Linked DNA regions of Homo sapiens: all the other regions are linked to region 3. The links come from fine-mapping of genetic effects on gene expression. A gene starts in region 3. Each other region holds a variant in brackets. All regions are shown on one strand. Distances are from middle to middle.

What was found. PIP is the estimated chance that this variant, and not a neighbour inherited with it, causes the effect. A credible set is the group of variants that fine-mapping cannot tell apart.
Region 1: its variant is the best candidate, but not a certain one, in a credible set for the expression of ZNF608 in spinal cord (GTEx, PIP 0.78).
Region 2: its variant is the best candidate, but not a certain one, in a credible set for the expression of ZNF608 in adrenal gland (GTEx, PIP 0.64).

Annotation. Positions count from the first base shown.
Region 1 is chr5:124,635,735-124,639,941 of GRCh38, forward strand. ZNF608 (zinc finger protein 608) reads right to left here. Exons shown (of 10, transcript NM_020747.3): 9 at 3,399-3,480; 10 at 1,181-2,172. The coding sequence ends at 2,166. Among named protein-coding and RNA genes, the nearest start is that of ZNF608, 110 kb to the right of the region's middle. The variant T/C (reference allele first, on the strand shown) is at 2,274.
Region 2 is chr5:124,867,278-124,871,524 of GRCh38, forward strand. It overlaps LOC105379157 (a long non-coding RNA gene), which reads right to left. Exons shown (of 2, transcript NR_188329.1): 2 at 1,508-2,633. Among named protein-coding and RNA genes, the nearest start is that of ZNF608, 120 kb to the left of the region's middle. The variant G/C (reference allele first, on the strand shown) is at 2,415.
Region 3 is chr5:124,744,822-124,749,047 of GRCh38, forward strand. It overlaps ZNF608 (zinc finger protein 608), which reads right to left and starts at 1,818. Exons shown (of 10, transcript NM_020747.3): 1 at 1,374-1,818; 2 at 1-351. The coding sequence starts at 168. RefSeq lists enhancers at 1-110, 1-19, 2,059-3,057, 2,751-2,930, 3,058-4,056 and a silencer at 3,936-4,175.

The DNA of each region.
Region 1 (4,207 bases), 110 kb before region 3:
AAAATGATGAAAAATATGTGAAATACTCTTATGTATAGGATTAAACACCACAAACGATATTTTTATAAATAACAGCTTGGATGAAATTCAAAAGAAAAACTGAAAACTAACAGAAAAATATCTTCTTACTGAAATCTATTAAGAACATAGACTAGATGTGTAAGCCAAGCAGCAAAGGCAATACTCTAAGGTGGTCTTTCAAAATCAAGGGAAACATTTCTTTTTGATTGCAAAATTCTATTCATTTCTGATGCAAAGGCCTCTAGGTAGAACTAACCAAATTATACCAAGACAAATTCCGTCAGCTTAAAGAACTTTTTAGTAAACCACGTGGTAGCACTGTCATTAGCAATTATAGTAAAATAATAAAAACTTACAGCTGGAATGGAGCACTGAAATCAACCAGTCCAAACATACAAAGCACACTCCCACCTTGGGGCTTCGGTACTTGCTCTTCCATGTCACTGCAGTGGTGTTCCCCCAGATGTCTGCATGGATCCCCCCCATCTCTTTAGTGGCCACTCTGTTTACAGTTACAAACTCCAGCACATATTCACTATGCCCCACTCCCATGCTTCATTTCTCTTCATTGCATTTATCAACCATCTAACATGCTCTATATATTATTCAGATATTTTATGATATGTTTATCCCACCCACCAAAAAATGAAAGCTCCATGAAGACAGGAATTTGTGTCTGCTTTGTTTACTGCAATATGCCAGAACCCAGTGCAGTGCTTGGGATAAAGCAGGCACTCAGTAAGTGTTTGTTCCAAGCAAAGAAGGGAGAGAAGAGGCAGTTAAAATTTGGCATAAAATATTCTAGTAAATCAATGTAATGACAGCTAACTGACTAAATGACTTTTTACATATTTTTCCTGTTATCCACATGTCATAACATTTGCATCTTTGAAGTATCATTCCATACCATAGAAACCTGTATCTACTAATTTCTAGTGATATCGTGCTCCATGTTTAGGGTAAATACCCTGTAAATGGGAATACATTCACCGAATTAAACACACTATTTGGTTGTTATACCTATGTATCCTATAAGAAAAGTTAATATCTGTTTACTGTATCTTATGCATTGGATATTAATAATATTAAGAAACCCTTCTTTGAAAATTAGAATGACTATCAGCCAGGTAGAAAATAACATGAGACAGACAAGAAGCCATTATTTAAAAAAAAAAAAACTTTTTAATTCTGATTGCCAAATTATTTAAGGCAGGTATAAAAAAGGAAAGCATTCAATATACATTTTACATAAAATAAACTAGATTACAGCATAAAACAAGTAACCAGGCAATGGCGTTAAAGTCTCTCTCTTCTAAAACTGGATAATTGTAAACATTAAAAAAAAAAAAAGACTGTAGAACTATTCAAGTAATAGAACAATCACAGATGTCTCTGGTACGCAGGCTATTGGGTTATTTGCCATTCAAGATTATCAAAAAATGACACCTCATTATTCACAGATGCTCATTATTTCCCCATTTTAATCTTTACATTATATACAACACAGTTTTTGTGGTACTGGCAACCCCATGCCTTCCAAAAGTACTTTTTCCACAATACACAAGTACAAACAGTGACTACAGGAACATTTTACACTGGTGCGTCTTTAACAGGAGCCACCAAATAGACATCTAAATTGTACCAAAGTGTCATCATCACAGTTAGCCTTTCTGAGGGGCTTATGGGAAATATGTGAAGGATATGCAAGGTTCAGGCACACTGATACATAACATTATTTATTTACAATTTTAAAGGAAAAGGAAAAGAAAGTAAGTAGCCTTTTGTGGCTAACACTTTTTAACATGACAAATACATTTTTAATTTCCTTTACTGAGTGGTTTGCGACGTGGCAGCAGACCCTGTGTGTGCGAGCCTGGTTACTGATACAAAAAGTAAAGAATATATTTATATTTATATATATATATATGTATATATACAGATATGTATACGTATATATATATAAAACAGAAGTTTAATTACAGCAACATTTGTTACTCTGTGATAAAATCTGTAATTTACAAAAATGAAATGACTGGTTTTTGCCTGCCATTAAGGCATTTCAAATTAACACCATGGAACTGATGTCTGTATAAAGCGCTTCCCCATGTGATCCAGTCACATGACAATGTACATGTCCAATCTTGTTATTCTCTGCAAAAGAAAAGCAAACCTTAGCACACGGTTCTATCAACATTTTGTTTGTTTGTTTTTTGAGTCGGAGTTTTGCTCTTGTTGCCCAGGCTAGAGTGCCA[T/C]GGCTCAATCTCGGCTCACCGCAACCTCTGCCTCCTGGGTTCAAGTGATTCTCCTGCCTCAGCCTCCCGAGTAGCTGGGATTATAGGCATGTGCCACCATGCCTGGCTAATTTTATGTTTTTAGTAGAGAGGGGGTTTCTCCATGTTGGTCAGACTGGTCTCAAGCTCCTGACCTCAGGTGATCTGCCCACCTCGGCCTCCCAAAGTGCTGGGATTACAGGCATAAGCCACCACACCCGGCCAACAGTTTTTTTTTTTTTTAGTTTTGAGACAGAGTCTCACTCCATCACCTAGGCTGGAATGCAATGGTGCAATCTCAGCTTACTGCAACCTCCACCTCCTGGGTTCCAGCAATTCTCATGCCTCAGCCTCCCTAGTAGCTGGAATTACAGACGCACACCACCACGCCCAGCTAATTTTTGTATTTTTATTAGAGATGGGGTTTCACCATGTTGGCCAGGCTAGTCTGGAACTCCCGACCTCAGGTGATCCACCTGCATGAGCCTCCCAAAGTGGTGGGACTACAGGCATGGGCCATCATGCCCAGCCTCTATCAACATTTGGCACTGTAAACCAGAAAACCATAAGACCGATAGTCTTATTTTAATTCCATTCAAATGTGGAATTCAATTCCAGAGAAAGTGAATAAACATAAAGTAATGATATACATTGTGAAAAATATTAATTTTATAATATTAATAATTTAATTCCTTTAAATCATTTTCCTTCATAAAACTTAGGGAATAATTTAAAATATCAAAGAACAAACATTACCTTTAGCATTATGAAAATAAATGTCTCCATTTGCGACTTTATCTTTAAACATAATAAAACAAAGGGAGTCATGGTGAATTATTTTAGAAATGCCGTAAGGATAACCCAAGAAAATTTCAACTGTCTAAAAAACTAATCAGTTAATTACTAATCTATGTAACCCTTACAGAATGAGGTTCATGGAATTTAAGTTGCATGTGAAGCAACTTATATTGGCATAATAAACACATTCATTACAATGATATAAAACCCAAGGAGTTAAGTTTTTGGTCTAAAAATCCTGTACTTGCTTCCTCCCAACCATTAAGATATTTCTATCTACAACTAATTAAAAATGTAGAGGATATTTACCTTCTTTGTCCAGGAAACATTCCAGATGCAGATGCCTGGGCAGCCACCTGCTGAGAGGCAACAAGGGCAGCAGAGGTCAAGCCTAATGGGGAAAAAATGTAGAGTGTCTGTGATCTTTAGAAGGATAAGAGTAGATACAGGCCCAGTGGAGAAGGGCCGCAGACCTAGTAGCAGCATGGTGTCCTCTCCTAAACACACACATGAACTGTTTCATGCAGCAAGGACACAGTACAAACCATTTGGTCTATCTGCTATCTATCCTTTCTTGAATACTCTGCAGTTTTCTTAATAGCTATTCGAAGGAGATACAGCATTCCATCTCTCCGGCTCTGCATGGTGCTAAATGGTTTGCATGCATTCCCTGAATAGGAAGCTCAGGAGAAATAACAGATACCAGGTAACAACAGGAATCAAAAGTCACAGTGAATTACAGAAGCGGCATGCTATTTGCCTAGAATACAATACTTTCATAATAATTGTTATCACTTTAACATTTTCCCCAGTGACTGAACACAATGCATCCCATAAGATACACAGAATCAGTAAATCAAACTTAGAAATGCTCTTAACTTTCACCCTGCAAGACAAAGGTAGCAGTCAGAGACTGTAATAGCTCCAAATGGCATGATGTTGCCTAACAGAGAATTCTTTTAAATTCTATAGAAGACAGTCCTGGGGAAAAATAGAGTAAACAAATGCAAACCTAGGGAAGATTACTGTCTCCTTCTAGGTCTTTTATTTGGATATATTTTCTTTTCCCAGAGGTAACTTAAGACAGTACAATAACAATAATATTATCTTAAAAGAGA
Region 2 (4,247 bases), 120 kb after region 3:
TGTTCTTTTCTGTCATGCTCCACAATAAAAATCGAAGCGAATGTTTGCCGCACATTCACATGGGCCTGTTGGATTATAATGGCACTACCCTTGTCAGAGAAAACAGAATATATGACTCCAGCTGGTACCTCCTAGGCTTTGGTGTGTTCCAGTGCTTTTTAGAGGGTAGGGGGAAGGGCTTTTTGAGAGCCAAGCATGTTTTAAAGATGGCGTGCATAACATTGCTACCACGTGAGAATTCTGTGGTGTGAATAATCAACCCCAGTGCTTCAAAAAATTTTTAAAAAGATTTAGCCAAGTCTGTGCATGAAAGGAAGTGGTTTTCACTAGGCATCATGCTTTTAAGATGACCATACTTGTTATGTGAATAACTTTATTTTGCAGCTATTTGCTTTGCCACATCACAAACAACACTTCATGCACTATTACTTAGGGAAAAAAAATACTCTGTGGCTATTATTTTTTCCAAAACAAACCTCAAACATTTTGTGATAATTTCAAACAGAGAAAATTGCAATAATAGTACAAAGAACTACTGTATACTCTTCACCTGGATTCGCAGTTTTTAACCTTTTGCCTCATTTACTTTCATCTCTTTAACTATCCATCCATCTGTGAATCCATCCATCTATCCCATCGTGCTGTGTGATGAACGTGCTGCATCGTGAACATGGGGTAAATGCACCTATGTCTATATTTATCTCTACCATCTACATAAAATGATTATGTGATTCTATTTTTCTGAATCATTTGAGGGTAAGCTGTAGGCACAGTTCTTCTTTACCCCTAAATAGTTCAGTGTGTATTTCCTAAAAACATGAATATTTGCTCACATAACAATGTTATAATTATCAAAATGTGAAATATTAATACAATCCCTTATCAAATCTACAGATCTTTATTCTAATTTTGCCAGAGGCTTCAAAAATATCTTTTCCTTGGTTGGGGGATATGTGGCAGGGTTTAGCTGTGATGCCTAGGCTGGAGTGCAGTGTTCTACTCATAGCTCATTGCAGCCTTGAACTCCTGGGATCAAGCTATCCTCCCTCCTTAGCCTCCCCCATGAGTATCTGGGACTACAGGCACGAGCTACTACTCCAATAATATTCTTTATAGCATTTTTCTCCCTGGTTCAGAGCCCAATCTGGGATCTTGTGTTAGGTTTAGTTTTTATGACTCTTTAATCTCCTTTAATCTGGAATGTTTTCTTACCTTTTTTTGTCTTTCATGATATTGTTTTGAAGAATACAGGCCATTTATTTTGTAGAATGTCCCTCAGTTTGGGTTTATCCCATGTTTCCCTATAATTAGATTCAGGATGCACTTTTCTCTCCCCTCAGGAATGAAAGGTAAGTGGTATTGTGTTTTGTCACACTGTCACACAAGCAGACACATGGTGCCTGTTCATCCCACTGGTAGTATTGCTAAGTTGGGTAAAAGGGTGTCCACCAGAGTTCTCCTGTTAAGCTACTATTTTCTCCTGTATAATTAATAAGTAAACTGTGGGAAGAGTCTCATTTTTTTTATTGGCTTTGGTCTAAAATAAGCACAGCCAAATAACAAGCAGCTGGAAACAGTTCTTACATATTTTAAGAGGAGGCCAGATAAGATTTCTTCAATAGTTTAGGAAAACATCCTGACTAAACATATTTGGATTTTCCTTTTTTCCTCGCCCTGTGGTGTATAGCCCTGTGCAGAATCAAGCAGAGCCCTTTCTTTTCACCTCCTTATCCAAAACCCAGGGTTTATTATTCGTTGACAAAATCATCAAGGAACTACATAGACACACACCATTTTTGGGAGGGAAGGTATCAGGTATGTAAAGGAAATATTAAAGGGGAATAGGAATGAAATAGGAATGAGGAGAACACAGAAATGCCAAGAGTACACAAATAATAGTTGACAAAGTCTTTTTAAACAAGTTAGGTGTGCCCCACTTCTAGTTTGCCTTTTCAACCTAGACAGGTCCTAAGTCATTCATTTCTCTCCTGCCTCCTTTTGTTGTGTTCTATTTTAGTGGGAACAGTGGTATCTCCCTGCAGGAAACATGCTTACTATATTGACACAAAGTTTATGATTGGTTTCCTCAAATTGTCTTGGTCATATTCATTGTTAAGAACATTTTTAAAAGTAAATATTATTATGGAGAAGTTGGAAGATGAAAAAAATGAAGTGAAGCCAGTTTGTATATACTCACTAAAGGAGGATGTGCCTGGATATATAGTTTATACTATCTGTAATATCAAACCCAGTGTTTGAGAGAAACACCATTCTTCCTGGCACAGAGATCTGAGAGAAGTTTCTCCAGCACAAAGAAGACCCTTTGTAATGAAGTAAATAATGTCCTTGACAACATTCTTACAGGAAAGCAACAAATGAGTTACAGGGCTGTTTCTTATGAAGTCTCTTGATGT[G/C]GCTGACTGCCTAATGCCAAAGCAGAGAGGAATGAAAGAAATCCGTCAGTGAGTGACAATGCCCTCTGATAGTCTGGTTTATTCCAAGGTTAACTTGTAGAGTATCTAAAGCGGTATTTCCAAATGTGCTTTTAATCTCCTTCAGCCATGTCCTCAGTTCTGTCAGATAGGGATGATAAAGCTTCCTCCTTGATTGCAGTGAAGGTTGAATGAGGTAAACTGATGGGAACCAGGCAACACAGAGCCAGTAGCATTGTAGGAAGAAATTAACAAATGGAAGTTATTATATTATTATTTTTGTTTTTCAGGAAGAAAAATAGGAATGAATGATTAATTAAAGCCCCAAATAGAACATGCTCACAATAATTTAGTTGGGAACATTTTTAAGCAGTTTTACCAGTCCATGACCCATGCCATTAAAAATGATCTTTGTAAATCATCCAGTGTGGTGCTGTCTCTTTAGTAAACCGGGAAAAGCAGAATATAAAGTATGCCCTTAGGTGACTTAGTGAGTGTGCTATTTAGGGTTGTTAGCTATAACCCAGTTAATCCTTGGCTTTGGTGCTGGAAAAACACACTATTTCCGTGGTTCTCAAAGTGTGGAAAAGGCAGCATCAGAACCATCTGGAAACTTTTTAGAAATGCACATTCTCAGCCCTGTTCTAGATCTACTGACTCAGAAACTGGGACAGGACTCAGCAATCTGTGTTTTAACAAACCCTCCAGGTGATTCTGATGCTTGCTAAAGTTTGAGAACCTCAGCTCCTCTGTCATAATTAAATAACAGGGTTAATCACTTACTAAGGCCTCTCCCAGGATATAAAAAAAATCCCAATTTCATATAGAAGGATGCATCTTTTTTCCTTCCCTGTGGTGAAGAGGGAGGCATTGTCCAGTGTACTGGGTCAAAGTGATATAATATTCTTAAGATGTAAGTTAAAATGAAAGAAGAACAGATTACATACATCCCCAATTTATCCCAATAGAAAATATTGGATTTGGCCAATACTGTATCTCTTGACTCTGCCTCTAATAGGAGCTTAGCCTAAAACTGGTTTCTATTCATAGAGTTAAAGGCTGAGGGAGAATGAATAAATGATTCTGTGAAAATAGCCTTAGTATGTATTAACCAGCTGTACCCAACTGACTTTCTCTTGTTAGCTGCACAAGGCAAAGGATGCTGAGATCTAGAGCATGTGCTTACAGGAGCAGAGGTAAGTTAGGTACAAGTTACTTGTACTTCCTGGCGTTTGAACAATAACTGGGCTCCTTTCTCTTTCAACCAGCAAAACATATTGTAACACTACTGCATTGAATGAGTGTGATGGATTAGAGGGAAATTCTTGAATGCCATCTCATTTACATTTTTATTAATTGATTCCCCTGCAACCTTTGGTACTTATGAAAAGTAACAAATTTCTAATAGCAGCCACATACCCAACACCAAATACACTGGTCCATTAAACAGGACTTAGGTGAAATGGGGTTTGAGCAGTAATGTTCGGACCCTATTCTAGGTGTATCAGGTTTATTTATTTTCTTGTTTGTAGGATGCTCACTCTTGGCCTATGTACGCAGGCTGCCAAGTACCAGAGATGATGCAGAATTCAGATTCCCAAGGAGGGGTAATGGACGGAAATGAACCCTTTCCTGCTTACACAGTAAATATTCACAAAGAAGTAAAAGCTAACCTGAGAAAAAAAAAAAAAAAAAAAAAAAACAGGAGAAAGGAGAAGGGGGGAAAGGCATTTTTTATTTTCATAGTGGGAAGAAATGTACTCTGGGAAGAAATGCATTGGCTCTGCCTCTATACAAAGAGCCCAGATACTGCCT
Region 3 (4,226 bases):
GGTGGTGGTGGAATTATTCATCTCAAATTTCTGTCTGTCCTTCTCCAAATCAGCGTCCAAATCAATTATTAAATTTCCAACCCCGATTTCCCAATCATCGCCACTGTCATAAGTATCAACTGTATTTGGATCCACACCTTTTCCTGCAGTAGAAATGTTCACTGACATCCTGAAGATGAGCTCTCTAGAATAAAAATCCGATGAACTTTTCTTTGGAGATGAGGGGACATTCGTTTATCTCCGCTGGGCTTTCTCTCAAAGAAAAAAAAAATCTTCTAATCTTCCTCTTCTTTTTCCTGCCCCACGAATGTGTCCAGGGATTTTACACCCTCAGTCCAGGTCCACCTTTTCCTGTGAAGGGGGGGGGAAAAGTCGAATATTTCTTGTCTGGGTGTTACCAGAATAAAAAACGATTAGTATTGGGGAATCAGTAAAGGGGACAGGGAAGGATGGAGAGTAAGGTGGCTCATGTATTGTCCTCACAGTCCAATATCAGGTTTAAAGGAAAATAACCAAACCCGAAAAATAAACCTATGACAGTAAGCATCTTACGGTAGCTAAAAAGAAAATCCCTTTATCAACAACACAAGGATAATCACCTTTTTAAAAGCATTAAATTATCTTAAGGATCTGATTCAAGTCCAGAAAGGTTTTTGTGTTCTTTTTTAAAGTTTAGGATTTCAGTCTGGCACATGTGATATCTCAACCCCAGAAACACAGCCTGAACACTCAGACAAGAAGGAAGAACACAGCTTTAAACATCCCTAAACATGTCCTAGATCTTGCAATTTAGAAGACCAGACCCTGGAAGTTCTGAGGCTAGTTTTCAGAATAGAATGTTGCTAAATTTTCCTTATTTCTAATTTAGGTTTCAGTACTTCTTTTTACAAATTGTCTGGGCAATCTGTTTTTTGTTCCTAGTAAGGAACAGAAAAAACAACCAATAACTGCCCCCAACACACACACATACCTCCCTCCTATCCTCTTTTCCCAAACAGCTTCTACAATTTCTTTTTTGAAATATGCATGTCTTTTAAGAGCATTTCTCTCTAGAAAAGACAGTGTTATATAAAAAGTTAAATACCTGCCTTTTGAGAAAAAAATACATTTAAACAATTCTACCATATTCCTAGGTCAGAGAATTGCTCACTCTCTTAAATACGGTGCTACTGACTGTACAGAAAACTGATTAAGACATACACTTTAAGTGATCTGCGCCAAGGTGGCCTCAATGACCGCAAATGAGTGTGTTTGACAAAGAGCAGTTAAAACGGTTTTTAAAGGGATCAGCCCCTTTTTAACAGTTGATTGTCAAGAAAAAAATAAATAAATATACATACACACACACATACACACACACAGACATTGCTTACCTTTTAATCCTTTATCATTTTTTAATTAGGCCAGCAAATCAAAATGCCTTTCCCACTCCACTCGGCAAACAAGCCTGTGCCTCATTTTACTTAAACACCAAATGATCAAGAAGGAAGAAACCAAATAACACATCTCAGCCAGAATAATCACTCGATAACATTATTCCACCTCCCCACCCCCCTTTTGGCAAACGAATCAGTCCTTTTCTCCTTAAAAAAAATGTGTCACTGTACAGCTGGAAAATAATGTTTCACATTCACAACAGAAGCACCAAAGGTTTTTTTTTCCTCTTAACAAGCATCGAGAATAATAGTTTTTTAAAAAACAGAGAGTTTAGAGAAAAAAGTTTTCCCAACTTCTCATTCCGCCTTCAGTTCCAGACTTCAGAGTCACCGTGATCAGTAATGATCCCATGTAGCAAACCTACAGGCGTCCGCTAGTAACGAGACAGAATGTGCTAACATCGGGATAAATTAGTGAAAGGGAAGAAAGAATAAGAAGAAAGGACTGAAAATCTGGGCTGGATTCCGCCTGTTAGTCGGGAAGTGGCATTTTTCCGCCCGTCCTGACAGATTTGATTTCTTGAACTAACTTAAGAGAAAAGGAGGGGGGGAGTAGAGGGAGGAGGAGGAGAAGAAAGGGTGGGATGAGAAACTGGGCAAGAGGAGAAAAAGAAAGGTGTGGAGGAGGAGACAGCAGATGATTCAGTGAGCTGATAAACCAGTTATAACAGCATTCGCTCGGGGCGGGGGGCGGGGGGCTTGGGGCGGTGGGGTGGGGAAAATAACGGCGTTTAAAATGGGCTCAGTCTTCGAAACCTAAAGGATGTGATGTTTTCCTGTCTTATGTTGTTTTAAGAAAAAGGAACTGAGTTCCTAGTATAGCTCCCGAGGGGAGTGGAATCCTCTGTCGCTCAGGTCAGCCAGTCATGTGGTAATTCGATAATTAGAGTCAAAATAAGGTTTTTGTTTTCTTTTTTTTTTTTTTTAAGGCGACCCTTTTCGGGAGTTTTTCCCTCTTATACTCGCAGCAAACGGTGTGTCTCCCTTTTATTTATTTTTTCTCTCCTCTCCCTTCGCCCAGCCCCTCCTGTGTTTAGTCAGATGGCCCCGGAGCTTGGCTTAGTATTTTTAATTAGCTGGCGTTTGGAAGCTAAAAGCAGTAATGAATTGTTGATGGATTGGAAGTGGAGAGTCGCTTTGCTGGAAATGTCGGGGCTGGGAGAGGGGGATGGGCGAGTTAGTAACAACCAACCATCTAAAAGGAGCGATTTTGTTACAGTGCAAGCCTTTCACATCACGTGAGGATCAAGGGCTCAATTGGTTGTCGTGAGAACAAAAATGGTGACAAGCGTATCAAGAAAATACTGATCTGGTCTTTAAAAAAAAAAAAGCTGAAAGTCTCTCCCCTCCCCCTGCACACACTCCCCCAACCTCCTCCCCCCGCCCCCCCGCAGTGGGCGAAGCTACAAGTTATGAATGTGAAACATTTCTCGGAGATCTAGGATCTCCGAAGTTCGGAAGGAGCGAAATGTAATGAGCACAAGAGCAAAGCAGATGTTTTAAAGAAACACTTTATAAACCTTTCCTCAACTTATCTCCAATTTGTCGGCTTTCCCAAGGGGCCAGGGACGGGGACGCCTGGGGGAGGGAGAAGGGTATCTCCGAGCTACTTGGATTTTAGGGACCCCCACTTCATGTATTAAACAAAGAAAAACCTTTTGCTTGCTCCCCAGCCTGGTCCTGTAATAAATACACCATTGTTACTATTTGTGGGTTTGTTTGGGTTGGGTGGGGCTTTTATTTTTTCTCTTAATGGTATTTTTGTTGCTTGCTTTTTTAAGGAGATGGCGAATGGTAATTATAACCATTACATGTAATGAGTGACTATTCCCTTGTTTAATATTAAATTATCGGGCACTGGGATCTGACAGGAGACAGAAATCGGCTTGTTCTGCCCTTGCCCCCATTTTCCTGGATCGCTTTGGGAGGGGGGTCTGCCCAGCTAGGACAGAAGAGGGAGGGAGTAAGGTGAGCTAGAGAATTGACACTGCAGACCAGGATATGCAACTGTGTCACTTTTATTCTCCTTTGGGTTAGAGCCCAAAAGCTAATTTCCTCTAAGTTACCCCGAGTGCCCAGTCAAGCTTAATTTGTGTGAAGTTACAAATGCTTCACCCTCCACTGAATAAAATTCACCCTTCTTGGGTTGTTGTTCTAAATGCAAAAGCCAAACCCTGTAACTAGTTCCTCATTTCTATGCATAAAACTCGCACATTCCCCTGCATGAAGTCCCCGCTAAGTGCTATATAGAGACACACCACGCAACCGTACTTACGGTCTGTATTGGATCGAGTTGACCTTTTCCTTCTAACTGCATTGAATGTGTTTGGTTGCAGCCGCTTTATTTTGGAAATTATAATCTCTTCAACAAATTTATTATTAAAGAAGATGGACCATCAAATGTCACAGACCGTCCTGTGTATTTTTTATAAAAGCAAAAATTAAAATTTAAAAAAAGCAAAACAAAAATCCCCCTGGTGCACACACACAACAAGCTTGTTCTGCAACACTAAATCAGGACTGAAACACAACACACACACAGGGGGAGTGGAGCAAAAGAAGCTCTCAGCCTCTATACCTGAAAGGGACTTTTCTTTGTTCCCAGTGCCCTTTCGCATCGGGCCAATCAGAGAGCAGCTTTTATGAAACTGGGCTCTCTCATTGGCTAGCTGCTTTCTCTTGGCTACTGTAGGGGGTTGAGATATACACACGTATAAAACACACACTGAGAGCGGGTGGGGGTGCTGTGGGGGGTGGTTGTGGAGACAAAGCGTTTTATTTTCCAACCAG